Linked DNA regions of Homo sapiens: all the other regions are linked to region 1. Evidence: fine-mapped expression QTL. A gene starts in region 1. Each other region holds a variant in brackets. All regions are shown on one strand. Distances are between the middles of the regions.

Region 1 (7,665 bases):
GGATTTCACAACCAGCCTGGACAACATGGAAAGACCCTGTCTCTAAAATAAATAAATAAATAAAATATTAGCTGGGTGTGGTGGCGTGCAACTGTAGTCCCAGCTACTTGGGAGGCTGAAGTGGGAAGATCGATGGAGTCTGGGAGGTGGAGTCTGCAGTGAGCCATGAGCCACTGCACTCCAGCCTGGCCAACAGAGTGAGACCCTGTCTCAAAAACAAAACCAAACCAAAAACTGTCAAATACCGCAGGGAGCTACCAACTTAAAAAAATTAGTTGTCAAGTGGATCAACCACTAAGGACTTAGAAACCACAGCGAAACTTGCAGAGAGCCCACACCCAGTTTAAAGGTTCTGTGAAGAATTAGTGGATGTGGGGGAAGAGGTCTGGGTTAGAATCCACAGCTGGAGTGGAGTCCTGTGGTTCCTGTCTCCCTGCCGCCGGCTCCTTCTCATTACGCTCCAAGGGCTGGGGGCACAAATACAAGATACGAGAGTGAAACTGACTTAACTCCTGCTTGCAAGTAGGCTGCATTTGGATGTCTATTAGCCTCGGCTTCCAAATGTCATGCAAAGATAACAGCTAAAGGACCTCTCTGGCTGGGCGCAGTGGCTCACGCCTGTAATCCCAGTGCTTTGAGAGGCAGAGGTGGGCGGATCACCTGAGGTCAGGATGTCAAGACCAGCCTGGCCAACATGGCGAAACCCTGTCTCTACTAAAAACACAAAAATTAGCTGGGCTTGGTGGCACATGGTGGTAATCCCAGCTACGTGGAGGCTGCAGTGAGCCGAGATGTGCAACTGCACTCCAGCCTGGATGACACAGTAAGACCCTATCTCAAAAAAAAAAAAAAAAATCTCTGATCATGAATGTGATCTAATGGAGTAGCTTCTGTGTTTCTTTGACAGTCATCCATGGTCAGGGATAGCCCTACCCAGTGGACACATGCATGCATTCATTTGCAACCAGAACAAACACTGTCTCTGTATTATGTGTGATAGACTACAATTTTTTAAAAATTCTATTTTCTTTTCATCTAATAAGTATTTGTTTCATAACCATTAAGAGTCATGACCCGCTGTTTGAAAAACACTGTTCTTTTTTTTTTTTTTGGAAACAGGGTCTCACTCTGTCCCCCAGGCTGGAGCACAGTGGTGCAATCATAGCTTACTGAAGCCTCAACTTCCCAGGCCCAGAGGATCCCTCCCACTTCAGCTTCCAGAGTGGCTAGGACTACAGGCGTGTGCCGCTATGCTCGACAATTTTTAATTTTTTGTAGAGACAGGGTCTCTCTATGTTACTCGCGCTGGTCTTGAACTCCTGCCCTGAAGCAGTTTTCCTAGCTTGGCCTCCCAAAGTACTGGGGTTATAGGCATGAACCACTTCACCCAGCTGAAAAACACCAGTCTAATGGAACAATATAAGGGAACAGAATTTGTAAACAGTCATGTTCTCTGCTAATCTGTGATTAGCAGTAATACCAGTATCCCTCCCTCTCCAAATCTATTCAGTTGGTGAGTTCAGCTAAGAGGTCTAGAGTGCTGATAGTAAGAATTAACATGCCATCTGAATCGCTTTTCTTCTGGAGTTCTGGTCTTTGAGCAAGAGCTGAGGTGGTCTGGGACTTGCATACTGATAAGGGAAGAAAGCCAGCTCGAAGATACCTTGAACCTTCTGGTGAGTCTGGGGTTAGAAGTGAAGTAGGGAGTGAAACAGAGGATGGCAAATACTGGGGGAGAGGCTCAGTGCTCCATTAGCCCATGTGACAGATGGTTTGAGAAGATTTGCCAGGTCAATGTGGGGTCAATTCTAAAAGTGTCCTAAGTCTAGGCCAAGAGGAACAAAATGCAGCTGGGTCTCTGACCTCACACGCCGAAGCCCAAGGACACGTTAGGGCCAAAATGTGACTCTCTAAGGTCACCTGTAAAACTGGACAATCTGGTAAAGTCAGTGAAGGTTAAGATCATGAATCCAGCCAGGCGTGGTGGCTCACGCCTGTAATTCCAGTACTTTGGGAGGCCAAGGAAGGAGACCAAAGAGAAAGGATCACTTGAGCCTAGGAGTTCGAGACCAGCCTGGGCAACCTAGCAACCTCCGTCTCTACAAAAAATACAAAAATTAACCAGGTATGGTGGCCGGTGCCTGCAGTCTCAGCTACTCAGGAGGCTGAGGTGGGAGAACTGCTTGAGCCTGGGAAGCAGAGGTTGCAGGGAGTCATGATGGTGCCACCGTACTCTAGCCTGAGCAACACAGCGAGTGAGACTCTGTCTCAAAATGAATAAATAAATAAAAGAAAAAGAAAAATAGTAAAACTCAGGACAGGTGGGCCCACAAGGAAAGAGTTCTGTGGCTTTTACTCCCGTTTTTTGGTTGGTCCAAAAAATTCCCAGCAGTCCAGGGATCTCTGTGGAGTTCTCAGTGAGTGTTCTGTGTAGGGTGCAGGAGCCACAAGTGACTGCAGGGGGAAAGGGGGGTTCTGGTGCTGGCATTCTGCAGCAGTGGGATTGTCCTCTGTCATAAAGAAAGAGAAGGCCGAGCGCGGTGGCTCATACCTGTAATCCCAGCACTTTGGGAGGCCGAGGCAGGCGGATTATTTGAGGTCAGGAGTTCGAGACCAGCCTGGCCAACATGGCGAAACCCCGTCTCTACTAAAAATACAATTAGTCGGGCCTGGTGGCACATGCCTGTAATCACAGCTACTCAGGAGGCTGAGGCAGGACAATCGCTTGAACCCGGGAGGCGGAGGTTTCAGTGAGCCGAGATCGGGCCACTGCACTCCAGCCTGGGCAACAAGAGCGAAACTCGTCTCCAATAAATAAATAAAATCCAAAACGCTGGGACTTGAAGTGCCCTCCTTTCAATCTTGACCCAGGTAAAACTCAGGACAAATAAAAAGAAGTAGAAGCAGTAAACTTAGGACATACAGCATGTAAAGGTTCTGAACGCAGGAGTAAATGACTTCAAATAGCTTTTGTGGCCTTTCGCCAAGGACCGGGCCCTCCCTGGCAAGCTGGGGCCGGGTCTGACCTTCCAGGTTGGCGTCAGCAAGGACCACCCTGCCCTTCAGTGGCCGGACACGACCTTGGGCTTTCGTGCAGTAGCCTGGCTGCAGGCCAGGTCGAGTCCGCCACCCCGGGGACTTGCACCGCCCTTCAGAAACCGAAACCTGCTCGGCCCCAGGAGGCGGACCGGGAGAAGGGGGGGGGGTGTGTGTGTCTCGGGACGGGGGCGTGGTCTAGAGGCGGGGGCAGGGGAGGAGCCTCGGGTGGACGCGCGTGCGCAGGCCGGAGCCTCGGGAGGAGGCCGGGTACCCGGGGTGCGGCGCGCGCGGGAGGAAGGCGGGGCCTCGGGCGAGGGGCGGGGCCTCGGGCCGGGGGCAGGGGGCGGGCGCAGGCGCAGGCGCGGGCGGGCGGGGCGCGGGGCGCGGGGCGCCGGGGGCGGGGCTCCGAGCCGGGCTGAGGCGAGCGGGGGCGCGGGTGGCGCGGCGGGACGCGAGCGGCGAGCCGGAGCGCGGAGCCCGGCTCCCGCACCATGGAGGAGGACGACAGCTACGGTCAGTGCGCCCCGGCGGCGGACGCTTCCCCCTCGCTGTCCCCCAGTCCCCTCCGGGCCCGGCCGTCCGGCAGCGCTTGCGGCGGCTGGCGTTTCCCGGGGACACTGGTGCGGGACGCGGAGCCCGGGGCGACCGGCGGGCGAGCGGTGCGCGGGGCCCTCGCGGGGCGGGGGTCGCAGGGGGTTTTGAGGGATGAGGGTCGCCGGGGCCGGGGTCGCTGGCGGCGCTGAGGGATGTGGGTGGCTGGGGCGGGGGTCACAGGCCGGGCTCGCGGTCTCGCGGGGCCAGGGGTCGCCGCGAGCTCTGAGGAATGAGGGTCGTTGGGGTCGCGGGGCAGGATCTCAGGGGCTCTGAGGGATGAGAGTCGTTGGGGTCGCTGGGGTCCCCGGGGCAGGGGTCGCAGTCCGGGTCCCGGGGGGCCGAGGGGTGGAGGTCGCTGGCCCTGCCGCCCCTCTGCGGGGCTCGGGGCGGACGCGCGGATGGCCGGGCCCGCGTTCCCCGCAGTTTCCGGCCGCTCTCGGCGTCAGCGAGTTGTGCCCGGTCCACGTCTTTGTTCAGAAATGAGAACGGGGAGCGGCGCCGCCGGCGAGGCGCGGGCTCCGGGACGGCCCTGCCCGCGGGAGTCTGGGCCCGGTAGCCGCCGGTCCGGTGCGTCGCCGCCTGCCGAGACGCGGGTGTGGAGCCCGAGGGGCACCGCGGTGGGGACGCCGCTCCTCCCCTGACTGGGGACTTGGCAAGCGGAGCCGCTGTCCCGCTCCCTTCGCTCCCGCGCGTTGAGGCTGCTGGCCCAGGCCAGGGGTGCCTCCCTCCAAGAGTTTGAAATTGCAAGGGTTGCAAAAGGTTGTTTGACATGCTGTAGTTAATTTATTAAGTTTGTTCATGAGGAATTAAAAGGAAGAATGGCAAATAGAACAAGTGGTGAACTTTTGTGGTTTGGTAGCAAAGTACAAATAAAGCAGAACTCTGTGGCCAAATGGAACCCAATTCTAGTTTAATAACTAATGGGACATTTTTCTTTTTTTTTTTTTTTTAAGAGACGAGATCTCGCTCTGTCACCCAGGCTGGAGCACAGTGGCGTGATCGTAGCTCACGTCAGCCTCTTGAGTGGCTGGAACCATACGCACGCCACCATGCCCGGCTAATTTTTTATTTTATTTTATTTTATTATTTTATTTTATTTTATTTTATTTTTGAAACGGAGTCTCACTCTGTCGCCCAGGCTGTAGTGCAGTGGCGCCATCTCGGCTCACTGCAACCTCGGCCTCCTGGGTGAGCTGAGCGATTCTCCTGCCTCAGGCTCCTGAGTAGCTGGGACTACAGGCGCGTGCCACCACGCCTGTCTAATTGTTGTATTTTTAGTAGAGACAGGGTTTTGCCATGTTGGCCAGGCTGGTCTTGAACTTCTGACCTCAGGTGATCCACCCGCCTCGGCCTCCCAAAGTGCTGGGATTACAGGCATGAGCCACCGCGCCCAGCCCTAATTTTTTACTTTTTTAAAAGATGGGGTCTTGCCATGTTACCCAGGCTGGTCTTGAACTCCTAGACCCAAGCAGTCCTCCCACCTCTGCCTCGCACAGTGTTGGGATTACAGGCCTGAGCCACCACACCCAGCCCACTTGTTACCTTATAAGTAAACAAGTAAAAGCAGCTTGTGCATTTTTTTGTTGTTTGTTTTGTTGTGTTTTTGAGACAGGGTCTAGCTCTCTTGCGCAGGCTGGAGTGCAGGGGCGCTCTCATAGCTCACTGCACGCTCTGCTTCCTTGGCTCAAGCAATCCTCTCACCTCTCTTCTCAGCCCCTCCTGTAACCTGGACTACAGGCCTGGGCTACCACGCCCTGCTAATTATTTTTATTTCTTTTTGTAGAGAGGGAGGTCTCCCTATGTTGCCTAGGCTGGTGTGAACTCCAGTTCCTATCTTGGCCTCCCAAAGTGTTGGGATTACAGGCATGAGCCACTGCTCCCAGCCTCCTTTTGTGATTAAAAGAAAAATCACCCACTGGCTGGCCCCAAAAGATTGTTCAGCCCCTCCAGATTTCACTCCTGCCCACTGCTGAGAAGCCGACAGCAGTTTTGCCTGCTGCTCTTTTCTCTGCCTCCTCTTGCCATTTAATTTCCCTCAGATCCCAGTGTCCTGCCTACCAGGCTTTTGTGGCCTCTCTTGTGTTCTTGCCTGCTGCCGTGGGCAGGAAGCTATTGGTCTGGTTGCTTTTAATACAGTGACTGCTTTGCCACCAGGCATGACATGAACTTGTACTTGAAAGAGGTAAGTGGAAGCAGGGCGTGTTAGTTTCCTATACCTGTTATATTACCACAAGCCTGGTGGCTCAAAACAACATAACATTTGTTTTAGGGTTCTGCTGTCAGAAGTCCAAAATAGGTCTCACTGGGCTAAAGCCAAGGTGTCGGACAGGCTGGTTCTTTCTGGAGGCTCAGGGGAGAACCCATTTCCTTACCTTTTCCAGCTTCTAGAGGCCACCTGTGTTCCATGGTTCATAGTCCCCTTTCCATCTTCAAAGCCAGCAGGTAGCATCTTCTCATTTCTCTCGACCTCCTACCTCCCTCTTATTAAGATCCTTGTGATTATAGTGGGACCCACCTGGATAATCAAGGCTAAGGATTAGCAACCTTAATTCCATCTGTTACCTTAATTCCCCTTCTGCCATGTAAGGTAACCTATTCACAAGTTCTGGGGATTAGTACCCGGACTTCTTTAGGGGCTGTTATTCTGTCTGCCACACACGAAGATGAGAAAGTTTGTAAGTTTATTCTTCCCCTTTCTTTTTTTTTTTTTTTTTTTTTTTGAGATGGAGTTTCACTCTTGTTGCCCAGGCTGGAGTGCAATGGCGCAATCTCGGCTCACTGCAACCTCTGCCTCCCAGCTTCAAGCGATTCTCCTGCCTCAGCCTCCTGAGTAGCTGGGATTACAGGCATGCGCCACCACGCCTGGCTAATTTTGTATTTTTAGTAGAGACAGGGTTTCTCTGTGTTGTCCAGGCTGGTCTCAAACTCTTGACCTCAGGTGATCTGCCTGCCTAAGCCTCCCAAAGTGCTGGGATTACAGGCATGAACCACCCCGCCTGGCCTGTTCCCCTTTCTACAGTTTTAAATATCATCCTTTTATTTTGGAGGAACTAAAAAGATTGAAGATTCCCCACCCAGAGGGTCACCACACAAAAAGTACCTGATGGTGTAAGATGATCATATGAAGAATAAGACTCCCAAGTTCTTTAAGGTTTGTGTTAGTCTCCAGAACTGTCCATTTCCCTCATAGGTTTCACAGAGAATTTACCTTGACCAGATCCCACATTGTAAAAGGAAATGTGTGTGATGGATTCATAAAGCATATAACATGACGTGTTCAGACGTCACCTCAGAACTTCCATTGTTTTCTTTTAAACAAACTTTTTATTATTATTATTTTTTAAATAGTTGCAGAGTCTCACTATGTTGCGCAGGCTGGTCTAAAACCATCCTCCCGCCTTGGCCTCTGAAAGTGTTGGGTTGAGTCACTGTGCCAGGCCTAATTAAACTTTTTCTTTCTTTTTTTTTTTTTTTTTTTTTTTTGAGATGGAGTCTCACTGTGTTGCCCAGGCTGGAATGCAGTGACGCAATCTTGGTTCACTGCAACCTCTGCCTGCTGGGTTCAAGTGATTCTTCTGCCTCAGCCTCCCAAGTAGCTGGGATTACAGGCACCTGCCACCACACCCGGCTGATTTTTGTGTTTTTAGTAGAAATGGGGTTTCACCATATTGGCCAGGCTGGTCTTAAACTCCTGACCTCAAGTGATCCACCTGCCTTGGCCTCCCAAAGTGCTGGGATTACAGGCGTGAGCCACCACGCCCGGCCCTAAATAAACTTTTTAAACCTTAATTTTTTTTCCCTTTTTTTTTTTTTTTTTTTTTTTGAGACAGTCTTGTTCTGTCACCCAGGCTGGAGTGTGGTGGCACAGTCTTAGCTCCCTGCAGCTTCCACCTCCTGGGTTCATGCGATTCTCCCTCAGCTTTCTGAGTAGGGGTTACTACAGGCACATGCTATCATGTCTGGCTAATTTTTGTATTTTTAGTAAAGATGGGGTTTCCCCATGTTGGCCAGGCTGGTCTTGAACTCCTGACC
Region 2 (7,665 bases), 110 kb after region 1:
ATTTTGGGTTTTCTTCCTCTTCCCCAGACTCCAGTCCTCGTTCTAGAGGAAGGAGTAGGACTTCCCCGATCCCCGTAGGGCTTCAGCTTTTTCTGCCTCAAAACCAGCCCTAACTGGACTACTCTGGATGCATTTTGTGGTGGGCCCCCTAGAGGGGAAGATGGGCCTTTATCTGCTCCGTGGGGTGCACTGGAGTGAGGGGGGTGGCCGGGCTGCCTCTCGCATCTCTGTCTTCCCCTGCAGGCGCTGTGTGAGCTGGCCCTGCCCCTCCTCATTACAGTATGAAGGGAGCCGTGACACGCAGCATTTTCCTGCCGTTCTCTCAGGGACTCTCAGGGCAGCTCCTGCCACTCCGCCAGGGCCAGCATGCCAGTCCAGGCAGAGCAGGTGGCTGGCTGTCTGGCCGTCTCGCCCCGCCCCTCCACAGGACCCTGGACCAGGGCGGTGCAGGGCGCAGCCCTGAGGAGGCAGGTGGAGGAGCTGCGGGTTTTCACAGGGCCGCGTCGCCACGGCTCCTCTGATCCTTTAGGGTTGGCGAGCATCTCTGGAAATAGCTTTTGCAGAGGAGTGGTGGGAGGAATAGAGGGGGACAGTCTGTCACCTCCCTCCCCGCCACTTTGTGTAGATCCTACCTGGAGGGAATGGCTTTAGGCACTTTTGTGCCAGAGCTTGTGAGGGTGACAGAAGAGGGTCCAGGCTGGAAACCTGAACTTTCTGGGTGGGAGAACCAGGTGGTGCCTGCCGAGGTCTGGGCGTGTTTGGGCCGGTGCTGGAGCCTGTCCAGCTGGCCCGGGCCCTGGCCTGGTTCTCAAGTGTTTCCTAGACAGAGAGGCACCTGGGTCAGTATTAGTCTATTTATCAGAGGTGTAAATAATCTATGTATAGTTTTTCTCCTTTTAGATTATTTTGTATTTGTTTAAAAGAAGTTTTGTCAAAATACAAAAATATAAAGAAATGACTGAAAGTTGTTGACAGGGTTTTTAAGAAATAATTATTCTAATTGTTTTTGTTTGTTTGTTTTTGCCTTGTAAACTAGCGCCAAGGAACTGCAGCAAATAAACTCCAACTCTGCCCAAGCCATCTTTGTTGTTCGCGGTGTCTCTGGGCTCAGGCGGGGCCCTCGAGGTGGGAAAGGGGTGCTGACCGGACACTTGTGCAGGAGGGTGTTACTCCAGCTGCACCTTGAGTTCAGTTGTAACACCTTGAAAGTGGGAGGAGGGTTCTGTCTTCTGTTAAGAAGAGCAGAGTCAGAAAAGATAAGTAACTTAGTCTTTGCACCGCCCCCACTTTTTTAGAAGAAACGTGAAACATCAGTTTTAAATTAAGATCAAGAAATATGCCTTCAGTCAATATAATACATTTTTAGTATGATTTCAGTTTCCAGAGATGACTTCATAATGCCAGGGAATAAACAGGGAAAAGTCTCAGGTGGGCTAGAACCCAGAAGCAGGGGAAGGCGCTTGGTGAACCAGCACCGAACAGAGAGACAGCAAAGCACCAGGCTGGCCCCTTCTGTGGGTCCATCTCCACGGGCTGGTCCGCGTTCTTCCACACAGCAGCAGTCATGCCTGATGTTTCCTCCTTGCTTCAAGCCCCCAGTCTACCCTGACCATTCCCCAGGTGACTGCCCCACTTTACTGAGAAGAGACGACCATTAGGTGTGAAGGGCAGCATTCCTACCTTTCCACATCAGTCAGAGTTGTTTTTGTTCCCTCCCATCGCCAGAAGAAGTGGCCTGCTTTTTTCCTGTCTCCCCTGGATCCATCTCTGTCAATTATCCTTTGTCTTATACATATCCCCAGTTTCTTTCCCCATTAATTTCTTTCCCTCAAACCACAGAAACGCCCATCTCATTTGAAAACTCCCTAAGCTCAGGAACAAGACAGAGATGTCCACTCTTACCACTTCTATTCAGCATTGTACTGGAGGTTCTAGTCAGGGCAATTAGGCAAGAAATGAAAGGCATCCAGATAGGAAAGAAGAGAGATTACATTTATTGGCTGGTAACATGACTTCATAATGCCTAGCTGAGCCATGGGAACGGGGCCACTCCCAAGGCTCCAGAACTGTGGGACCACCAGCTTGCCGCCCCAGCCGGGAGAGCTGTATGTAGGCACTAGATGCCATCCTGTGACAGCTGCGGCATGGGCAGAACCCAGCACAGGGTGGGGCTGCTCCTGGCCTTGGGGGATCACATTAAGATGAGTCAGAGATCATTCTGGAGTCTTAAGATTTAATGTCTGCCCTATTGGGTTTCAGACTTACTTGGGATTGGTTATTCTTTCCTTCTTGCCCTTTTTTCCCTTTTGGAATGGGAATGTCTATCTCATGCCTGTCCCCCAGTGTATTTTGGAAGTGCATAACTTGTTAAATTTCGAGGCTCTCAGCTGGAGGGGATTTGCCTCAGGATGAATTGTTCCTTGAGTCTCACTCATATCTGATCTAGAGGAGACTCTGGACTTTGGACTTTTGAATTGGTGCTGGAGCAAGTTAGGACTTTTGGGGCAGTCGGGATGGAATGAATGCGTTTTGTACTGAGACTGGCGAGTGTGGGGGAACCAGTGGCAGAAAGCTACAGTGTGAATATCTGTTCCCTCCAAAACTCATGTTGAAATGTAACTGCCATTGTTACAGTATGAAAAGGTAGGACCTTTAAGAGGTGTTTAGCTGAACTAAGGAAAAATCCTGCAATAGTAATACATCCACGAAGTTATTAAAACGCCAATAAAATCCATTTGAGAACAGTTCATCACCCCAAAGCACACCCTGTCTACTCATCAGCAGCCTCTCCTCCTCTTCCCCTGGTCCCGGGCAGTCCTAATGGTTCTGTCTATGCACTTGCCTCTTCTGGGCATTTCATACAAATGGAATCATACACTACATGGGCCTTCGCGTTTGGCTTCTTTCACTTAGCGTTACGTTTACACGACTCATCCCTGTAGCGTGTGTCAGAGCCTCATTCCCCTTTATGCCCAGATAACATTCATCGTATGGAGACCACGTTGTTATTCATTCATCTATGGGCGTTTGGGTTGCTTCCGCCTCTTGGCTGTTAGGAGGCCTGCTGCTGCTGCCTTTCTCTGCAGTTGTTTGTGTGGTTGCAGGACTGTAGAAAGTAAAAAGTTTCCTCTTCAAAGTTTCCCTTCTTATTAAAGAATAAATCATAAGTGTTAGAAATAATAGTTTCTTTTAAAGACTAACTTCCTTCAAGCCTCCTTGCTTTGTGCTAATAACTCTTTGTTAAGCCCTATCCTAGGTAGCTGTTAGACATGCTCAAGGCACGTAGTACATTCCATGTCCTTGTACCTTAACCAAGATATCTGTGCTCACGTGCTCATAGGCATGTTCCAGCTCACAGCCTATGCTCCTTCCTTATTTGAGAATAAATTATTAGCCAATCGGGTTTTAATTTAGATTGTGAGGTCCGGCTCCAGCCAATGGAGACAGGACACAGCAATAGAGGCCTCATGCATATAGAATGGATATTCTGGCGTCTCTTTATTCTGTGTGTGCCCTCCCCATTGTTCCATCTGCAAGGGACACCCTTTCTGCAGAAAGTAAAAATTGCCTCGCTGAGAGAACTTTTTGTCTGAATGCTAATTTTTCCTTGTGACACCAGGGAACAAACATTTTGCATTGCTAACAGGGACTCCGACAGTTCCTCGTTGCATCTATGTCCTCACTTTCGTTCACTCCTCAGCCAGGGGTCCCCCTCCTCTCTCCTCTTGGCTCTGGTGGATTAGTCTACCTGGGCTCTCCTACCTCTCTGACAGCTCCCTGTGCGTTCTTTCCCTGGCCTCTCCTCTCTGCCCACCCGCCAGCTGCTGGACATCCCCCAGGATTCTAGCCCCCAGTGTTCCTAAGCCCTCTTCCTTGACAGATAATCAGTCCCGCGACTGACCCTGCTGCTACCCGCTGTGGGCCCCTATGTGTGCCTGTGCAATTCCGGCCCGTTCCAGGCTCCCCTTTCCACCTCTGACTGCTTGTGGGACGTCTCCACCAGAGTGGCTGCCGGGCCTCCCCAGCTCAGCCTGTCCACAGCTGATAGCCCCAAGACTGCCCCTTGTCCTGGGGACTCTGCTGCCACCCTCAGAGAGCCTGTGTAGGCTTGGAGCCCTTTCTCATGTGTCTCCCCCTCTCTCCCTACACCCAGGCATTCCCAAGCCCTCCCTGTGGACCTCTGGAGTGGCTCCTCCAGCCACTGTCGCCGCCCCAAGACCTTCATCACAGGCCTGGCCCG[C/T]GGGGGTGGCTTCCCCACTGGTCTGCGGACCTCTAGGCTTTGCCATCTTCTACTCCGTGATTGATGCGGCTGTGGAATTTTCATCTACTGATCATGTCATTCCTCCATTTAGTAAAACAAGCAAACAGAACCTGTCCCTTTGCTTGCAGAAGAGAACGTGAATCTGCATGATGCTCAAGGCCTTCTCCACCAGGCTCTGTTCGCCTTATCTCTAGCTGTTTCTATCCTTAACTGCGCCCTCCCTGCCCTGTGTCCCAAGCTCTTGCTCCACAGCCACCGTTTAATAGCTAATAGCTTTGCTCATGAGACTTCCTTTTGCCATCTCCTCTGCCAGCCTGTTTGTGCAAAACCTTCTCATTCTTCGAAGCCTTGCGCCGTCCAGATTGGCCCAGCTTTTTCCCCAGGCTGAAGGGCCTCCTCGTGCTCCTGAGCAGTGAGTCCACTCGGTTCTGGGATGGCTTATGCGGACGTGCCTGTCTCCATGGTTGTGTTGGGAGCAGGAGCCGTGAGGCGTTTGTTCCCTGCTTCTAACCTGATGGAGCAGGTCCCATGCGCCCAGCGCTGGGCTTCATGCCTGTCAGTGCGCGTGAGGCTGCACGTCACAGAGAGCTCACCTAGTGGGGACATGACTCATGAGGACACAAATAAGAACAGGAAGTCCCAAATGTGCGCTCCAGGTTGTTCGGCTGCCCTGGGATGTAACCCGGAGCTTTCCTCCTCCTCCGCTCTCCTGGAACACTCATATTGACCCGGTCGTGGCACAGTTAGAAGGAGGGGATACCATATCCTCACACAGTGGCACTCAGAAGGAGGAGCAGGGAGCGAGGGGCAGCCAGGGCCCCCCATGCTTGCCTCCCTTCATCAAGGAGGAAGTGTCTTTCCCCGGATTCCCTGCAGACGTGTCCTTACGTTTCAGCATCACCCTGGGTCTCGTCTCCACCTCTCAGCCAATCCTCCGCTTAGGCCCATTTGATGCCTCACTGGGGCTGGGCACACATCCTGCAGACACAGTTGGGGTACCGTGGGCCGGACGCCGGCAAGCAGAGGGTGGAGAATGGATGCTAGGTCGGCAGAAAGGCTGTGGCCGCCAAAGGTGGAGACTGGGAGCAGTGAGAACCCGTGTCTGGCGCTCAGAGTCTGGGTAGAGCAGACATGAGAAAATTGAGTGAAGTGATCCCGGGGTGTGGGGGGCTAACCCCAGGAGCAAACAGGTGGGCGGCTATTGGAAAGAGCAAGCGGAGGAGGTAACTTGAACGGGCTGATGAGGGAAGGCCCCACTGAGAAGAGGTTGCTGAGCTGAAGAGGAGGCCACCAGGCAAGGGCCCGGGGCGCCGCTTAGAGTAGGGTAGCTAGTGGTGGGGTGGAGGGATCCTGAAGGAATTGCTGGGATGGGCTGGCTAAGGCCTGGGGTGGCAGGGGATGCAGAGGAGAGGTCAGCAGGGGCCAGATGGAGCGGGACCAGGGCCATGGTAGGGGACGTCTGAGGTGGCGTGGAGCTTGGGGGCTGGAGAGGGACTCTGGCTGCTGGAGGGAGAATTGTTGGGGGAGGACAGTGCCAGCACGAGGCTGTGACATGACTCAGTTGGGGGTGATGGGGATTGTACTGGGACAACCGTGAGAGAGGTGTAGGGGACAATTAAAAATTCATGATGTGCCTTCGAGGGAGGGGCAGCAGAACTTGGAGGTAGAAATGGAGGGAGAAGGAGAAATCAGGATGAGTCCTAAGTGTTGGGCCTGGGCAGCCGACAAGGACAGACTTGGGCTGGAAATCCAGGTTCTCTTCTGGAGGTGTCAAGAAGAGGATGACTCTTATAATGGCCGGCAGGTGGGGAGCTGGCTGGTCACATTGGGAGCTCTGCAGAAAGATGAGTGACCACCTACTGGTCACATGTGGCTTCCCAATGGTCCACCTGGGGAAGGGCTTGTGGTTCATGGCCTCAGTAAAACTTGTTTAGTCCTAAACGGGTCATGTTAAGAATTCCTTTGTTATTTTTCATGCTTTAAGGCCCAGGAAAGGCCTGGGCAAAACTCTTGGCAGGCTTTTGTTACATCCCAGCCTTTGTATAAGGGGGCCAGCTCTCTCAGCTTTTATTTTTGTTTTAATTTTTTTTGAGATGGAGTCTCACTCTGTCGCCAGGCTGGAGCGCAGTGGCATGATCTTGGCTCACTGCAACCTCCACCTCCCGGGTTCAAGTGATTCTCCTGCCTCAGCCTCCCAAGTAGCTGGGAATACAGGTACGTGGCACCATGCCCAGCTAATTTTTGTATTTTTAGTACAGACGGGGTTTCAGCATGTTGGCCAGGGTGGTCTCGATCTCTTGACCTCGTGAACCGCCCGCCTCGGCCTTCTAAGTGCTAGGATTACAGGCGTGAGCCACCGTGCCCGGCCGGCTTTTAATATTTAACTTCACCACGTGGTCAGTGCTGAAACAGTTGTTATGGAGGCCTGCGTTAGTGAGCCTGGCCTGCCACAAACCCACAAACATCTACCAGTGTGATCTACACCGTTAACAGAATGAAGGAGAAAACGGGGTGATCATCTCCATCGATGCAGGAAAAGCATTGGACGAAATGAAACTCCACCAGGAAATACACCCAACGGGGCAGGCGCAGAAGGAACCCTTTCAACACAAGCAAGGCCTACTGCGGGACACACTTGAGACAGTATCGTCCCCTCCTTCCCAGGCCCCAAAGAAGGACTGGGGCAAGTCCAGCCTGGTGAGTAGCAGAGTTGATGGGGACCCGCACACAGGGCACTGCCGGACAGCAGCAGGACAGCTCGAGAGATCCACGCCGCCCCCATCTCTAGGCTGCTTTTACGCTGATTTTCTGGCTCTTTGCCTACTGTGTGTGTGTGCCATGGGACTTTTCCTTGGCGGGTTCTCAGATCCTCTCTGGGCTGTGTGGGTTCTCAGGGACACCTACTCCTTGGCTGGGCACCGTGGCGTGGACTCACCATGTGGCCTTCAGGGTTCAGGCAGCAGACATATGCCCTTAAGTAACCTGGTGGAGGACCTGTCACAGTACAAGGCCATCTATGAAAACACCACAGCCAACCTCATACTCAACGGAGAGAGATTGGAAGCTTTTCCTCTAAGATCAGGATCAAGACAAGGATGCCTGCTTTTGCCACTTCTCCTCAACATGGTCCTGGATGTTCTAGCCAGGGCAATTAGGCAAGAAAAAGAAGGTCTCCAAGTTGGAAAGGAAAAAGTAAAATGATCTCTGTTTGCCATGCCATGATTTTACATATACACACACACACACACACACACACACACACACACATATATACACACACACACCCCCACACACACACCCCCCACACACACATATATATATGTAAAACCCTAAAGATTCTACACACACACAAAAAAACGGGGAGGTAATAAGTGGATTTGGCAAAGCTGCAGGATACAAACTCC
Region 3 (7,665 bases), 93 kb after region 1:
TTGAGTATACCACGGTGAGCACCTGCTAGTCGGCCTCCAGACTAGGGATGGGCAAGGCCTCCGGTTCCAAGTGTCTCTAATCAGACATGGTTGAGGAGACCGTTGGATTTGCCCTTCAGTATCTGTGGGGGATGGGGGAGAGTTTAAGCAAAGTGCAAGAACTGAAGTAAATCTCAGAATGGGGAACCCCTGAGAAGAGGTGCGTGCCTTAAAGGGCACGGGCTCAGAGCAGGCACCCGGTTCTGGTGGGACAGGAGATACCTGGCCTGGAGGAGGGGGAGCACTAGAAATGGGTTTTGGAACTGGGCTAGAAAGAATGAATTTGCATTGGTTGCCGAGAAAGAGTATGTGGCCCTAATTGAAAGGGAGATGAAAAGAAAAAGGAAATAATCGTGATTTAGAAAATTCACCTATTCTGGGTTAGCAGAAATGTGATTTCAGAAGAAACAGCCCAAGGGGTAAAATATATAGTGGGGGAAAAGGAAGTGAAGTGAAATGGGAAAAGTCAATTTGAGATTATCTGGAGTTTTAAGAAGTTTTGTTGGTTTTTATTCAGTGGGAGAGACTTATAGCTGCAAATTTGTGTTTTATATACGTATATCTCTTTTGTAATAATAGCCAAAGAAAGTAAAAATCATAAATTAGCTCTTTTCAGAGCTCCCTCTAAGCAAGGTACCCAGAACCCTGGCAAGTTAGCACTTGGTGTGGAGACCGTGGCTCACCGGACTGGTGATGGGGTGCTTTTTCATTTCTGCCACCTTTCTTGGTCATTGTAAGGGCAAAGCGGGCATACTCCCATGGCATCGAACTTTTGTCTTAAAGTAAATCAAGGCCGTTGAGTTGAGAATGCTTTGCTTTTGTTCTCCAAGTGTATCTTCATGGAGCAAAAGTCATTGATCCCACTGAGAAAATTAAGACTCAGAAGTATCTTTTAAAATCAGTTTAGAGCAAAATGGGGCTTAAGTAAAACATTGAAATCCTGACCATATTCACCAGTCACTTATTTAGGACCAAGAAACAGGTACACGCCTTGGCATTTTCTGCTGTGAGGTGTGAAGATGGGTTTCTGTCGTGTCTAACACTTAGCGTTGTTCTCCATCCCCATGGACATCATGCACATGCAGCTTCTCACCCAGGGAATGCACTTCGTAGCCCATCAGGCTGCAGGCAAGAGCCGCTGCTTCTGATGGTTTGGTGACTGAGGATAGTAAATCACTGTGAAGGGAATTCTGGCCGGGATTTCATATGTTGTAGGGGCTCAGCTCATGCCCTGCAAGTTCTGCACTGGCTTTGCTTTTCTGTTGTTATAGTCTTTTCATATGAGAGTAATACACTTCAAATATCTGCAAAATAATAAAAAGAAAGCTGCTTTCTGCTTCACCCCCAAAGTACCACTGTGAACATCTTGGTACAATTTTTTCTGTTTTGTTCACCCTTCTGCCCTATATTTTGCCTTTTTTCTGAAGACACCTACACTAACGATGTCTTTAACATCGTGTCTGAATTTGTCTCGCTATTTTCTGGGTCAAAATGATACATAAGCATCTAAGTGGTGTACTTCTAAGTCCTGGACAATCCTATAGCAATGCTACGAGATTCTAGAATCTTGTGGTTTTTCGTGATGCCCACCGTAGTGGTGTCACCTTAATCCTTAATTCAGCAATATTTATTCAGCAAAGTGTAGCATTTTATCAAGCAATGGAAATACAGAGAAAAATACTTTTTTTTTTTTGAGACGGAGTCTCGCTCTGTCTCCCAGGCTGGAGTGTAGTGGTGGTGTGATCTTAGCTCACTGCAACCTCTGCCTCCTGGGTTCAAGTGATTCTCCCATCTCAGCCTCCTGAGTAGCTGGGACTAGAGGCGTGCGCCACCACATCCGTTTTTTTTTGTTTTGTTTTCTGTTTTTTAAGTAGAGATGGGATGGGGTTTCACCATGTTGGCCAGGCTGGTCTTGAACTCCTGACCTCAGGTGATCTGCACCCAGCAGTAAATACATTTCTTTTTTTTTTTTTTTTTTTTTTTTTTTTTTTTTTTTTTGAGATGGAGTCTCGCTCTGTTGCCCAGGCTGGAGTGCAGTGGCACGATCTCGGCTCACTGCAAGCTCCGCCTCCCGGGCTCACGCCATTCTCCTGCCTCGGCCTCCGGAGTAGCTGGGACTACAGGCGCTGCTGCCACGCCCAGCTAATTTTTTGTATTTTTAGTAGAGACGGGGTTTCACTGTGTTAGTCAGGATGGTCTCGATCTCCTGATCTTGTGATCCGCCCATCTCAGCCTTCCAAAGTGCTGAATACATTTCTTAAGACACAGAGAGGATGCTGTCAGAATTAAGATGGTAGATTGAAACTTCCACACAGAATTACCTAACAGAGCAAAAGACTAGTAAAAAAATAAGTAGGGAAAAATAGCAACCAAGCAGGGGAAGGGGCAGAACGAATTCAGTGCACTGCAGCCCTGGGCAGCAGCGGAAGCAGCGGTGGCAGGGGCAGCAGTCAGGAGCAGTGTGCAGGGTTTCTACCTCACGGCCCAGGATTTGAGGAGACCCGGCAGTCTCGCTGGTTTCTCAGGTCTGGGAGGAGGCAAACTGAACAGGACTTGTTATTTTTTCCTCCCTGATCAAGGAGTAGTAAAATCCCCTGCTGGGTGGACATTGGTGAAATGGGAAAAGTGAAAAAAGCAGCCGTTATAGACATAAGTAAAGGCTCAAGACTGTATATTCACTGGGGAAGACTGTCCATGGAGGGTCTCCCATGAGCATGATATCCATCCCCAAATACAGGGGTCCTCAACCTCAGGCCATAGGACGGTACCAGTCTGTGGCCTGTTACGAGCCAGGCCACACAGCGGGAGGTGAGTGGCAGGCGAGCGGTGGAAGCTTCATCTGTATTTACAGCCAGCTGCTCCCCATCACTCACATCACCTCCTGAGCTCCACATCCTGTCAGATCAGTGGCGGCGTTAGATTCTCATAGGAGCACGAACCCTATTGTAAATTGTATGGGCCAGAGATCTAGGTTGTGCACTCCTCCTGAGAATCTAATGCCTGATGATCTGAGGTGGAGCTGAGGCAGTGATGCTAGTGCTGGGGAGCAGCTGCAAGTACAGATGAATGTTAGCAGAGAGGTTTGACTCCACAGAGACCATAATAATACATCAGTTGCTTGCAGACTCATCAGAACTCTATCAGTGAGTGGCAAGTGACAATTAGCCTGCCTCTGGTGGCAGGCTTTATAGTGGCAAGTGAGCTGATGTACTTCAATTGTACAGCTGTATCTGGTGGCAGGCTTTAAGTCAGAATCCAACACTTATTTCAGTCCGTGCATGGCCTGCCCGTTATTTTATTTACCACTGCCATCCACATCTCTTTCCCACACTGTGTACTTGTCTCAGCCATGGTTTTGGTAAGCCCA[T/C]CCACCAACCCTAGCCAAAATGAGTAAAAACCAAACGTCACTGGAGAGCTTCTTTGAAAAGGGGGAGAGACCCATTGATGAGACAGCAGAACACGCCAAGACTGCCAACAAAAATAAAGCTGCATTGTAAAGAAAACGCCAAGAGTTCTACTCAAATTCTAGGTTCATTTCAACAGGTGATCACATTCGCCAAGCCCACTTTGTAGAATATGTGGTGACCAACTACCCAACAAAGCCATGAAAGCTTCAAAACTGCCTCACCGCATGGAGACCAAGCACCCTGCATCAAAAGACAAGCCTTTGGAGTTTTCAAAAGAAAAAAATGTAAACATCAAGAACAGAAGCAATTATTGAAGGCCACCACTTCATCAAATATGTCTGCGCTGAAAGCATCATTCTTCGTGTCTAACCGCATTGCCAAAGCCAGGACTGGCTGTTGGTGAAGAGTTGATCCTGCCTGCTGCTAAGGACATTTGTCATGCGCTTTTAGGAGAGGCTGTGGTTCAAAAGGTGGCACATGTTGCTCTTTCGGCCAGCACCGTAACTAGGCAGATTGATGAAACAGCAGCAGATATTGAGGCACAATTGTTAGAGAGGATTAACGAGTCACTCTGGTACTCAATCCAGGTTGACGAGTCTACCGATGTTGACAACAAGACAACAATGCTTGTTCTTCTGTGACATATTTTTCAGGGGGATGTTCATGAGGATATGTTATGTGTGCTTTAGTTGCCAACCAACACCACGGCTGCTATTCAAGTCTTTGAATTATTACATATCAGGGAAACTGAACTGTTTTGTTTTGTGGTGTTATATGCATGGATGGAGCGGCTGCCGTGACTGGACAGCTTTCTGGTTTCACTACTCAGGTCAAAGAGGTCACTTCTAAATGTGAGTCTATGCAGTATGTCATCCATAGAGAAGTGCTGGCTAGCCAAAAAGTGTCACCTGAACTTAACAACATTTATGCAGGATGCGATTGAAATTACCAACCACATTAAAGTACATGGCCTAACTCAGGTCTGTTCATGCAGCCCTCGGAGGAGATGGACGCAGAGCACACACGGCTTCTGTGATACACAGAGTGAGACGCTCTCTAAAGGCACATCACTGGCCAGAGTTTCTGAGTTGCAACAGCCACTTCAGAGATTTCTTCTAGAAAAAGTCACCACTAGCAGCACATTTCAGTGACACAGAATATAGGTCAGGAAACTTGTGTACTTGTGTGACAGATTAAACCTACTCACAAACTCAATCTGTCACTTCAGGGGAGAGTGACAAGTGTGTCCCAGTCGGCAGATCAAGTGGCTGCTTTCAAAGCCAAACTGGAATTACAGGGGTGATGAGTGAACACTGGGATTTCTGACATGTTTCAAACATTAGAGAGATTGTGAGAGACGGAGCCAGGGCCTTCTTTGCCCCAGCGCCTCAGCTTTCAGAAGAGCTTGAGCGATACTTCCCAACCACAAAAGAACCTGAACTGGAAAGGAATGGATCTGTGACCCATTTGAGAATAAGCCAGGTGAATCACCTTGGCCAATGCTAGAAGAAGATCAACTGCTTGAGATCGCAAATGACAGTGGCCTTAAAAGTACGTTTGAGACAACTTCAAATCTCCATATGTTCTGGATTAAAGTTGAGGCAGAATATCCTGAGATTGCCCCAAAAGCACTGAAAGCCTGCTTCCACGCCCAACATCCTGTCTTTGTGAAGCAGTGTTTTCTGCAGTGACAGCAGCCAAAGAGTGATTACAGAGTAGACTGGACACAAGCAACACATGTTGGGTGTCACTGTCTCCCATCAGCCCCAGATGGGACTATCTAGTTGCAGGAAAACAAGCTCAGGGCTCCCATTGATTCTACATCATGGTGAGTTGTATAATTATTTCATTATATATTACAGTATAATAACAATAGAAATAAAGTGTACAATAAATGTAATGTAGGCTGGGCGCGGTGGCTCACTCCTGTAATCCCAGCACTTTGGGAGGCCAAGGTGGGCAGATCACCTGAGGTTGGGAGTTCGAGACCAGCCTGACCAACATGGAGAAACCCCGTCTCTACTAAAAATAAAAAATCAGCCAAGTGTGGTGGCACATGCCTGTAATCCCAGCTACCAGGGAGGCTGTGGCAGGAGAATCGCTTGAACCCAGGAGGCGGAGGTTGCGGTGAGCCAAGATCTCGCCATTGCACTCCAGCCTGGGCAACAAAAGCAAAACTGTGCCCCCCAAAATAAAAATAAATAAATTAATTAACTTAAAAAAATGTAATGTGCTCGAATCATCCCGAACCATCTTCCCTCCCCTGCCTTTGTCCGTGGAAAAATTGTCTTCCATGAAACCAGTTCCTGGTACCAAAAAGGCTGGGGACTGCTGCCCAGATAGATGGAGCAAACCCTGACGTTGGATACTTACAATCCGAGAGGAAAGACCAGAACTCGGGGAGTATCTTCGATGAGCTCTCCCACCACTCACCATTCTCTACGAGACTGCATAATATGCTAGAATGCAGAACACCTGGCCGCCCACCACAGGTCAGGGTAAGTGGTTAGGGGGACACAAGCAGATCAGAGATTCACAGGAGGAGAACCAGGGGTCACTCACAGATTTACCAGAGCCAGCTGGAAGGCCAGAAAAGCAAGGTTTCCGTCTTCAAACAAGTGAGAACCCAAGCAATAGCATATACTTACAGTGCAACCATTAATATATAATCATAGAATTATAACTTATTTATTCTTAAAGGTAAGTTAAAACTTTAAGGAGTGGAACAAATTAGCTGAAAATATAATCATGTCCTATAAATATAATGTCTTAAACGCTTGAGCCAATCACAGAGATTATATCTGAAAAAGACAAGTATTAAAACAATGAGAGAAAAGCTAGCAGATGCAGAGAACAGAAGACGATCCCAATAATACCAGAGTAATTGGTGTCTGCAGAATCAAAGATACAGTGTGGCATGAGGTGATTTCCCTGAGAAAGAGGAAAAAGCCCTGAATCTGCAAATCAAAGAAGACACCGTATTTCAGGAAACTGTTACAGAAAGGGTCGCTCCAAAGCCTGGCCCCTTAGACCATTGAACTTGGAGCCAAGTGTCTGGTCGTTCTGTTGGAAAAAGCAGATCATCTCCAGCAGCTTTTAGTCCCAGAAATTAAAGTATCAAGGTCTGCACAGTTTTGAAGAGAAGAATGACCCAAGACCCTTTATCCAGCCACGTTATTGTTTAAGTAAAGCACAGCTGGCCGCACTCTCCTGAAGAAAACATGTGAAATGCGGCACTTTGGAACCTTCTTGAAAAAAAAATTGCTTGACAGTAACATCCAGCACGTAAGAGAATGAATCACAAGAAAGGCCCTGGGAAGTAAAAGACTGGTAGTGAGCATTGAACTATTCATTTAAATACAGAACTAATACTTAAATATACAACTAATACTAAAATATGCTTAAGTTCAGAATACGAAAATATACTTAAGTATGGAACTAATACCAAAATATACTTAAGTATAGAACTAATAGCTAAATATACTCATATAGAAGTAATAGCTAAATAAACTTAAATATAGAGCTAATACTAAAATATGCTTAAATATAAAACAAATACTAATTAACCAGAAATTGTGGCTGCAGGACGTACCATGAATGTTATAAACCTGGACAATGTAAAAGTGAAATAATAAAAATCAGGAGGTGGGAGGAGGAACAATGTGAAGAATTAGAAGATTTTGTACTTTTTAAAATGCAGAGTCAAGAAATATTGTTAAAATGGAAGCATGTTGTATTTTTTAAAAGAATAAGTAAAACCTTTTTTTTTTTTTTTTTTTTTGAGACAGAGTCTTGCTCTGTCACCCAGGCTGGAGTCCAGTGGCACGATCTTGCAGTGGCTCACTGCAACCTCCGCCTCCCGGATTCAAGAAATTCTCCTGCCTCATCCTCCTGAGTAGCTGGGATTACAGGCACGTGCCACCACATGCGGCTAATTTTTGTATTTTTAGTAGAGATGGGGTTTCACCATGTTGGTCAGGCTGGTCTCAAACTCCTGACCTCGTGATCTGCCCGCCTCAGCCTCCCAAAGTGCTGGGATTACAGGCGTGAGCCACCATGCCTGGTCAGACCTCTTAATGTTTTCATAAACTTCTTTGTCTTAACTTGAATAAGGTTATTTCAGGAACTCTTGTGGTAAAGAAACATTTACTTTGAAGTTCAACAATTCTTCAGTTTCTGCTTCCTTTTTTCCCCCTGTTAAATTCTAAACAATTAAAAT
Region 4 (6,627 bases), 85 kb after region 1:
TGAAAGTCTGACATTAAGGCACTATGAATTTAAATTGTGGTACCTCTGAACTACGAAATACACAGCTATTAAAAACCATGTTTTAGCTGCATGCAGTGGCTCACACTGGTAATGTCAGCACCTTGGGTGGGAGGCCGAGGTGAGAGGATTGCTTGAGGCTAGGAGTTTGAGACCAGCCTGGGCAACATTATGAGACCCTTTCTCCAAAAAAATTTTTAAAAATTAGCCAGGTGTGGTGGCTTATGCCTGTAGTCCCGGCTATTTGTGAGGCTGAGGCAGGAGGATCTCTTGAGCCCAAGAGTTTACGACTACACGCAGTGAGCTATGATTGCACCACAGCACTCCAAGCCTGGGTGACAGAGTGAGACCCTGTCTCAAAACAAAAACTAAAGAAACCCATATTGTTACAAAGAATTTTTATTGACATAGGAGAATGATATTAAGATTAGCAAAAAAGCATGTGTATGTATTTGTTTGTTTCCAGTTTTGTTACAGTATATATCTGTGAGATAAATATGTGGTGAGTTATACATAGTCATATTTACGTAGAGGAAATAAAGCAAAATAAATTATTGCTAGATAGTGGGATTATGGGTCATTACAGGTCATTTTGTTTTAAACACATTGTGTTTTTCAGAGTTTCTACAGTGTGTGTATTCTCCTTTCCAATCTGAAAAAATAAACAGCTTTAAGTCTTGAATACTTTATATACTTTTTCGTGCCTTGCTCCTTTCAGACAGCAGTGTGCCCTGGAGTGTACCCGTACATGTGGATTCATCTCATTCTTTTGAGAACATGTTTTTTTTTTTTTTTCTGAGATGGAGTCTCACTCTGTCGCCCAGGCTGGAGTGCAGTGGCGCTATCTCGGCTCACTGCAAGCTCTGCCTCCCAGGTTCAAGCAATTCTCCTGCCTCGGCCTCCCAAGTTGCTGGGATTACAGGCGCGTGCAGCCACGCCTGGCTAATTTTTGTATTTTAGTAGAGACGGGTTTTCACCATGTGGGTCAGGCTAGGCTTGAACTCCTGACCTCATGATCTGCCTGCCTTGGCCTCCCAAAGTGCAGGGATTACAGGTGTAAGCCACTGCATCTGGCCGAGAACATGGTTTTTTATTCCTGATTTCATCTGATACCACTCTTGCTCTTGCGGGTGGGATGTTTCTGAACATCTGAGCATGCAACGGCTCCCCTTTGCTTTTCTCTCATCTTTAGATACTTGTTACGTCCTCTCCTTTGCCATCATCATGTTGAACACCAGTCTGCACAACCCCAATGTCAAAGATAAGCCCACTGTGGAGAGGTTCATTGCCATGAACCGAGGCATCAATGATGGGGGAGACCTGCCGGAGGAGCTCCTCCGGGTAAGCAAGGAAGAATGGTCTTCATTCAAGTCAAGAAAGAGTTCACTGGGAACAGGATCGTCTTTTGTAGGAAGGAAGAAAAAACATACAATTTATCAAGGGTCTCCTCTTTTAATTTGTTTAACCATGTGAATTTCATTAAGAAAGTGGTAGTAAGGCCCAGCTAGGGAATCAGGGAGGGGACAGTGGTTTGTAAACATGAAACTAAAAGCTTGAATAGAAGTCAGGCTGCTTCTTTATTTTCCTAATTGGGAAGGCTTATTTATTTTGTCACTGTGAGCTGCCTGAAAGCAGAAATGGTCATAATCTTCTAGTCTCAGCATCTAGCAGGCTTGGCTTACTATAGGCACATGAATGCTTGTGGAATGAATGAAGAGAAAGGGGAGGAGGAAAAAATATTTCTAGAATCAGAGACATAAATTGTCATCTTTTATCCCAGAATCTCTATGAGAGCATAAAAAATGAACCCTTTAAAATCCCAGAAGACGACGGGAATGACCTCACTCACACTTTCTTCAATCCAGACCGAGAAGGCTGGCTATTGAAACTCGGTAAGCGCACCTCTGAGTCAGGGCTCCTAAAGCTGAGACTTAGGAAGAAAGGCGGTGTGTGTGCGTGTGTGCGTGCGTGCGTGTGTGCGCGTGTGCGTGTTTGTGCGTGTGCATGTGTGCGCGTGCGTGTGTGTGCACGCGCATGCATGTTCACACACATTCATGGACACACACGCACCATGTAGGAAAGGGGGTGGCTTATAGAGGACTCCAGAGAGACTTTGGTATGAGTTCTGTTCTAACAAAGGTCGGCTTCCAAAAGGGAAGTGACTTCATAGTCATTGCCCCCATGGGACACAGAGACTACTGGGGACAGACTTACTCCACCATAAATATTGCCCACATGTGTCTGTGCTCCACATTTTTACCCTTGAATTGGTTGACCAGGTTTTGTTTCAAGGCAGTTCCCTGAGCACCTGGTCCGTTTGCCTTCCCTGTCCCCATAACCACTGGGAGGGTGGCCGACCTTGTCCATCTTTCTACTTCCCATCCCACAGATTTGTACCTGGCGCTCCTGCCCCCACCCCAGTGCATCGTCACTTCCTTCTGCATCTGGCTCCCCCACAGGCAGTGTGCATGGCAAGCCTAGAGCCCTTGGCTGCAGCTCAATCCACAGCACTCTTACTCATTCTTGGGCAGTGGTTTTTTTTTTTTCTTTTTTTTTTCCCCTCCTTTTCAATCTGAATCAGCCACATTAATTATTTTGTTCATTTAGAAAAGCTGAAAATGCATTTCTCTTCCCTTTGCCAGAAGTGATGAGCTTGTATTGCTGAGATTTGTGGTCATGCCTTGCCGTGAA[G/C]GTGACAGGGTAATCAATAGGAAAGACTTTAGTAGGGTTTTCATACACATTCATGTCCACATGTGTTTACTTTATTAATGGTTTCAGAACATAGAGCTCTAGACTCTCTGGACATAATGATGTCCTTTTTTTTTTTTTTTTTTTGGACACTAGCAGGGTACTTTCCTCTGTTGCCTTCTGCTTTAGCCTTTGATGAGTTGGGTTCTCACATTAGCAGGGGCTGTTCCGTCCTATACCAGCCCAACTGCTTGCCCCAGTGATTAGAAGTCAGTACTCTCTTGGTCATTACTGACACATCTGGGAAGGCTAAAATGGAATCCTTTATTTCTGACTAGGTCAGATAGCAGTAGACTTTATATTTCCTTTTAAAGTCATATCCCAAGTCCTTGTGCTTATACATAATGACTTAATTCATAAATTCCCCTTACAGCACCACTTCACCGATCAGTTTTAAATATCTCTTGAATTGGCCATCATTTTATATATCTTTAAGCCCCCAGAATCTTTGAAGTTAAGGCTCTAAAATTACTAACCCCATAGGCAGCCTTCCCTTCCACATTCCTATTGCCAAGTGGATGGAGTTGAAAGGAAACCTACTGGAAACGTTTAAAGTGTGTTCAAGTTTGGATTTACTTCCCCCTACAGCGAGATTTGTTTAAATGCTAATACTAAGTGTTAGCTTTGACAGCCCAGATACTAAAATTAGAACAGTACAAAGATTATCTTGGTTCTTAGACCAGGATGACATGCAAATTCATGAGGCATCTCGTATTTTAAAAAAGAGAAAATTTAACCAAGTGTGGGACTCAGTTTTAGCTCATTGCATTACTTTTTCTAAACCTCCATCAAATCCTTCTAGACTCTGAATATTGTGTTTTCATTGTAGCACACTTAGTATCACTCTTTGTGTTTATGTGCTGCAGAAGGCAGGGCTTCCAGCCGTCTGTAGCTGTGTGTATATGTCTGTGTATGCATATAGCCATAAGAATGTGTATTCTTGTGTATACACATCAGTACATGTGTACTCATGGGTATATGTGTGTGCATTCTTACACACACTTTAAAAAGTGACAGCCATCTCAAGAAAGACATTTAATTTTCCCTGAAATAACCTTAGCTTTCTTTGCTCTGATTCTGGATATACTAGTAAACATTGGCTTTGTAAAAGCCGATTTGTGGCATCTTTGGGGCCAGGTTTCCAGTAGTGCCTCAAATCTTGCCTTGATGAGGTGGAACGTGGCATGTAAGAGCCCCTCGTTCACGTGCCAGACAGTAGTGGGATCATTTGCCCGTTGAGTGTTTTTAGTTCAGCTCTCTCCCCAGGCAGGCATGAATGTGACTGATACATTGCACTTTAAGATTAAGGAATCGGGTTTAATTTCTTTGTTTTAATTTTCTTTTCTCCCTCATTTGTATGTTTCCATGATTTTGGCTCTCCTTTTCCTTGCCCCAAACTCCAGGAGGTATGTAACCCTCAGCCTGCTCGCTCGCTCTGCTAGGCCACTGTCATTACTGCAGCATTTTCTGATTTCGTTATTTTTGGTTATTTTGTTTTTTAATTGCCGGTGGTAGTGTTAATGCTGCTTCTAACTTATTGTACAGTCCCTAGGGAACTGGTCAGGATCAGGGGTTTGGAGCAATTTTCGTTTTTCTTTTTTGGAGGAGTATATGTTATATTCATTACTGAATGCAGTAATGCAAGAAAACATACTAAGAGTGGGTTTGTAAAAGCAGAGGAAGTTTCCATGACATTTTCACTTGGAATTATTGGCTAAGACATGCGCTATGTTTGATATTCAATTTGACGTCCATTAATCAGCCTGATTGAAAGTTAATCTCTGACGTGGGGAAGAGGAGAAAGAAGAGAAGGAAGTCTTTCTTTTTTCTTCTTTTTTCAAGCTGAGACTTACTCCAGAGAGAACAAAGTCTTGACTTCCCAAAGCTATGGAAAGCTTCTGATTTACCATGATGGAAAAGCAAACTAGGGAAAGAACTAAATTAGATGATACTTAAGACATTTGCCTTTGCACGAAAAGGGGAAATGGTATTTCCTAAACTCAAAATGATACCGAGTGAAGGTGAAAAAAACAAGTCCAAACCAAAAAACCCTCCCTGAAGTCCTCGTGTTTAGTTTCCTGGGGATCAGAGAAGGGTATTAACAGCCTCGGCTCTGTTGTTATGTTTTGTTTTGCTCCCTCGCTTTTTCAGCGAGTCCTCGTTAAAGCCCCGAATCGGTCTCCTGGTTATGGTTTTGGTGTCTCCTCTCCATTTGCTGGTTTTTTTGGGGAAACATATTTTCTTAGCCCAAGACCCCTCAGGTTTGTGCCTAAGCATTCCCTGAGCAGTAGCTACACTTAAAAAGAACAACCCCAAACACGCACAGTTACTGAGATGCTTCAGGGACTTGTCAGGTTGTTCTCAACTGTAGGGGAAGATGGCATCCGGCCTTGATGTCTCGGGGAGGTCACAGGAGGCCTGAGGAGCCGTGCAGTGGGAGGTGGTCCTGTGAGTTCCACAGGGACTGTCCTAGGCGCACATTGATCTGTCTGCTTGTTTCATGTCTGCTTTTCTTTCCACGTGGAAATGTTCCCCGTGGGCCCACAGTGATGCTTTATGGTAGAGGTCTCTGTAATGCAACAAATTGTCCAGGCATAATAACCAAGCTTTTGTAATCAGGCAGAGAATTTCTTCTGGCTTTGCTTTTTCTCCTTGATTTCTTTCCATCTTGTTTCTTTTAGCATCTGACTCGCTTTTTCCATGATCTCCTATGTCCGAAGGGTTCCCCGGGTAGTGTCCTGTGATGGAGCGCATGGGAGGTCAGCATGGGTTGATGTTCCCTTTGTGCCGAGCCTCCGTGGGCAACCAATGGCCCGCCAGGCTGGAAGACCAAAGTTCTCAGACTCTGAATTGGTGGAGGGGGTTCCTTTTTAAGAACAAATTGGCTTCAATCCTGAATATAGTCCTTGCCTTCTTTATCCTCCTTATTTAATTCTGCCCGGGCTTTCCTGTTTTCCACATGCATGTCATAGTATCCATTTATGGTTTTCTCTTAATTCATGCCATCTAACCTTTAGGGACCAGTGGCAAGGGCTCACATGAAACTTAGAAGTTACTGGAGGGAGAGTCTCAATTTGCTTGATATAGCACAGGATGGGCAGGTGGAGGGCACGTGCTTGCTTACAGCAAATTCCCTCGCATAACCTAGATCTGTGTCATTTGGAATCTTGGCAATTAATGATCAGTCACGTAAGCCCGCCTAGGGTTCAGCATCCAAGCAGGGTGCTAAAAACTGGCCTGAAAGTCCAGTGGTCCTTTTACTTGTCTGCCAGGACCTACGCTGGACATTTTCTTTTCATAACATTATTTGCATACTCCCCTTAGGTTTCTCTGGTGTGAGCATGCAGGCAGGTCCTGGCAGTTAGAATAATCCCTGTAAAACCATTCTCCTCTTTGCTCAGCTATTTGTGATGAGGGCAAGAGAGAAAGCATGATCGGAGGTATGAGATTTATGCCCCATGATCCTTGCTATTTAGGAAGATTGGAGAAGCGGTATTGTCTGTAGGTTAAGTCTTAGCAAAAGAGCAGGCACAAGAAGTGTTTCTAGAATGCCATGCATAGCTTCACAGGTCAAGGCCTTAGGGATAAGTTTTGAGTGGTTCATGTTCAGAAAATGTTCCCTTGATGGGAGAGAGGTGGAGGAAGAGAAAGCCTGTGGTCCCGATTTGACAGCAGGTGTAGCTTCATTCAGATAGGCTTGGGGAAATTTTTCCTTCCTTCATGTCTGTCTCAGCATAACTTCACGGCCCCAACCCCAACTTTTTTTTTTTTCTTTTTTTTTTCTTTTTTTTTGAGAGGGAGTCTCCCTGTGTCACCCAGGCGGGAGTGCAGTGGTGCAATCTTGGCTCACTGCAACCTCCA

Direction of the effects. Positions count from the first base shown, and alleles are read on the strand shown. Sizes are in standard deviations (SD) of each study's normalised expression. Not every link is listed here.
As copies of T replace C in region 3, the expression in monocytes after LPS of the gene that starts at base 3,481 in region 1 goes up (moderate effect, 0.61 SD a copy in Fairfax 2014).

Evidence for each region. PIP is the estimated chance that this variant, and not a neighbour inherited with it, causes the effect.
Region 2: its variant is the best candidate, but not a certain one, in a credible set for the expression of CYTH1 in cerebellar hemisphere (GTEx, PIP 0.57).
Region 3: its variant is the best candidate, but not a certain one, in a credible set for the expression of CYTH1 in monocytes after LPS (Fairfax 2014, PIP 0.62).
Region 4: its variant is the best candidate, but not a certain one, in a credible set for the expression of CYTH1 in whole blood (INTERVAL, PIP 0.61).

Annotation. Positions count from the first base shown.
Region 1 is chr17:78,778,089-78,785,753 of GRCh38, reverse strand. It overlaps CYTH1 (cytohesin 1), which reads left to right and starts at 3,481. Exons shown (of 14, transcript NM_004762.6): 1 at 3,481-3,552. The coding sequence starts at 3,531. RefSeq lists a cis regulatory region at 277-696, silencers at 3,222-3,381, 3,422-3,701, 3,962-4,361 and an enhancer at 5,380-5,479.
Region 2 is chr17:78,667,463-78,675,127 of GRCh38, reverse strand. It overlaps CYTH1 (cytohesin 1), which reads left to right. Exons shown (of 14, transcript NM_004762.6): 14 at 1-1,080. Among named protein-coding and RNA genes, the nearest start is that of SCAT1, 39 kb to the right of the region's middle. RefSeq lists enhancers at 1-69, 6,403-7,012, 7,013-7,623, 7,624-7,665. The variant C/T (reference allele first, on the strand shown) is at 4,241.
Region 3 is chr17:78,684,766-78,692,430 of GRCh38, reverse strand. It overlaps CYTH1 (cytohesin 1), which reads left to right. Exons shown (of 14, transcript NM_004762.6): 11 at 1-14. Among named protein-coding and RNA genes, the nearest start is that of SCAT1, 57 kb to the right of the region's middle. The variant T/C (reference allele first, on the strand shown) is at 3,407.
Region 4 is chr17:78,693,552-78,700,178 of GRCh38, reverse strand. CYTH1 (cytohesin 1) reads left to right here. Exons shown (of 14, transcript NM_004762.6): 8 at 1,211-1,359; 9 at 1,799-1,910; 10 at 4,170-4,172. It also overlaps the pseudogene RNU6-638P. Among named protein-coding and RNA genes, the nearest start is that of SCAT1, 65 kb to the right of the region's middle. The variant G/C (reference allele first, on the strand shown) is at 2,710.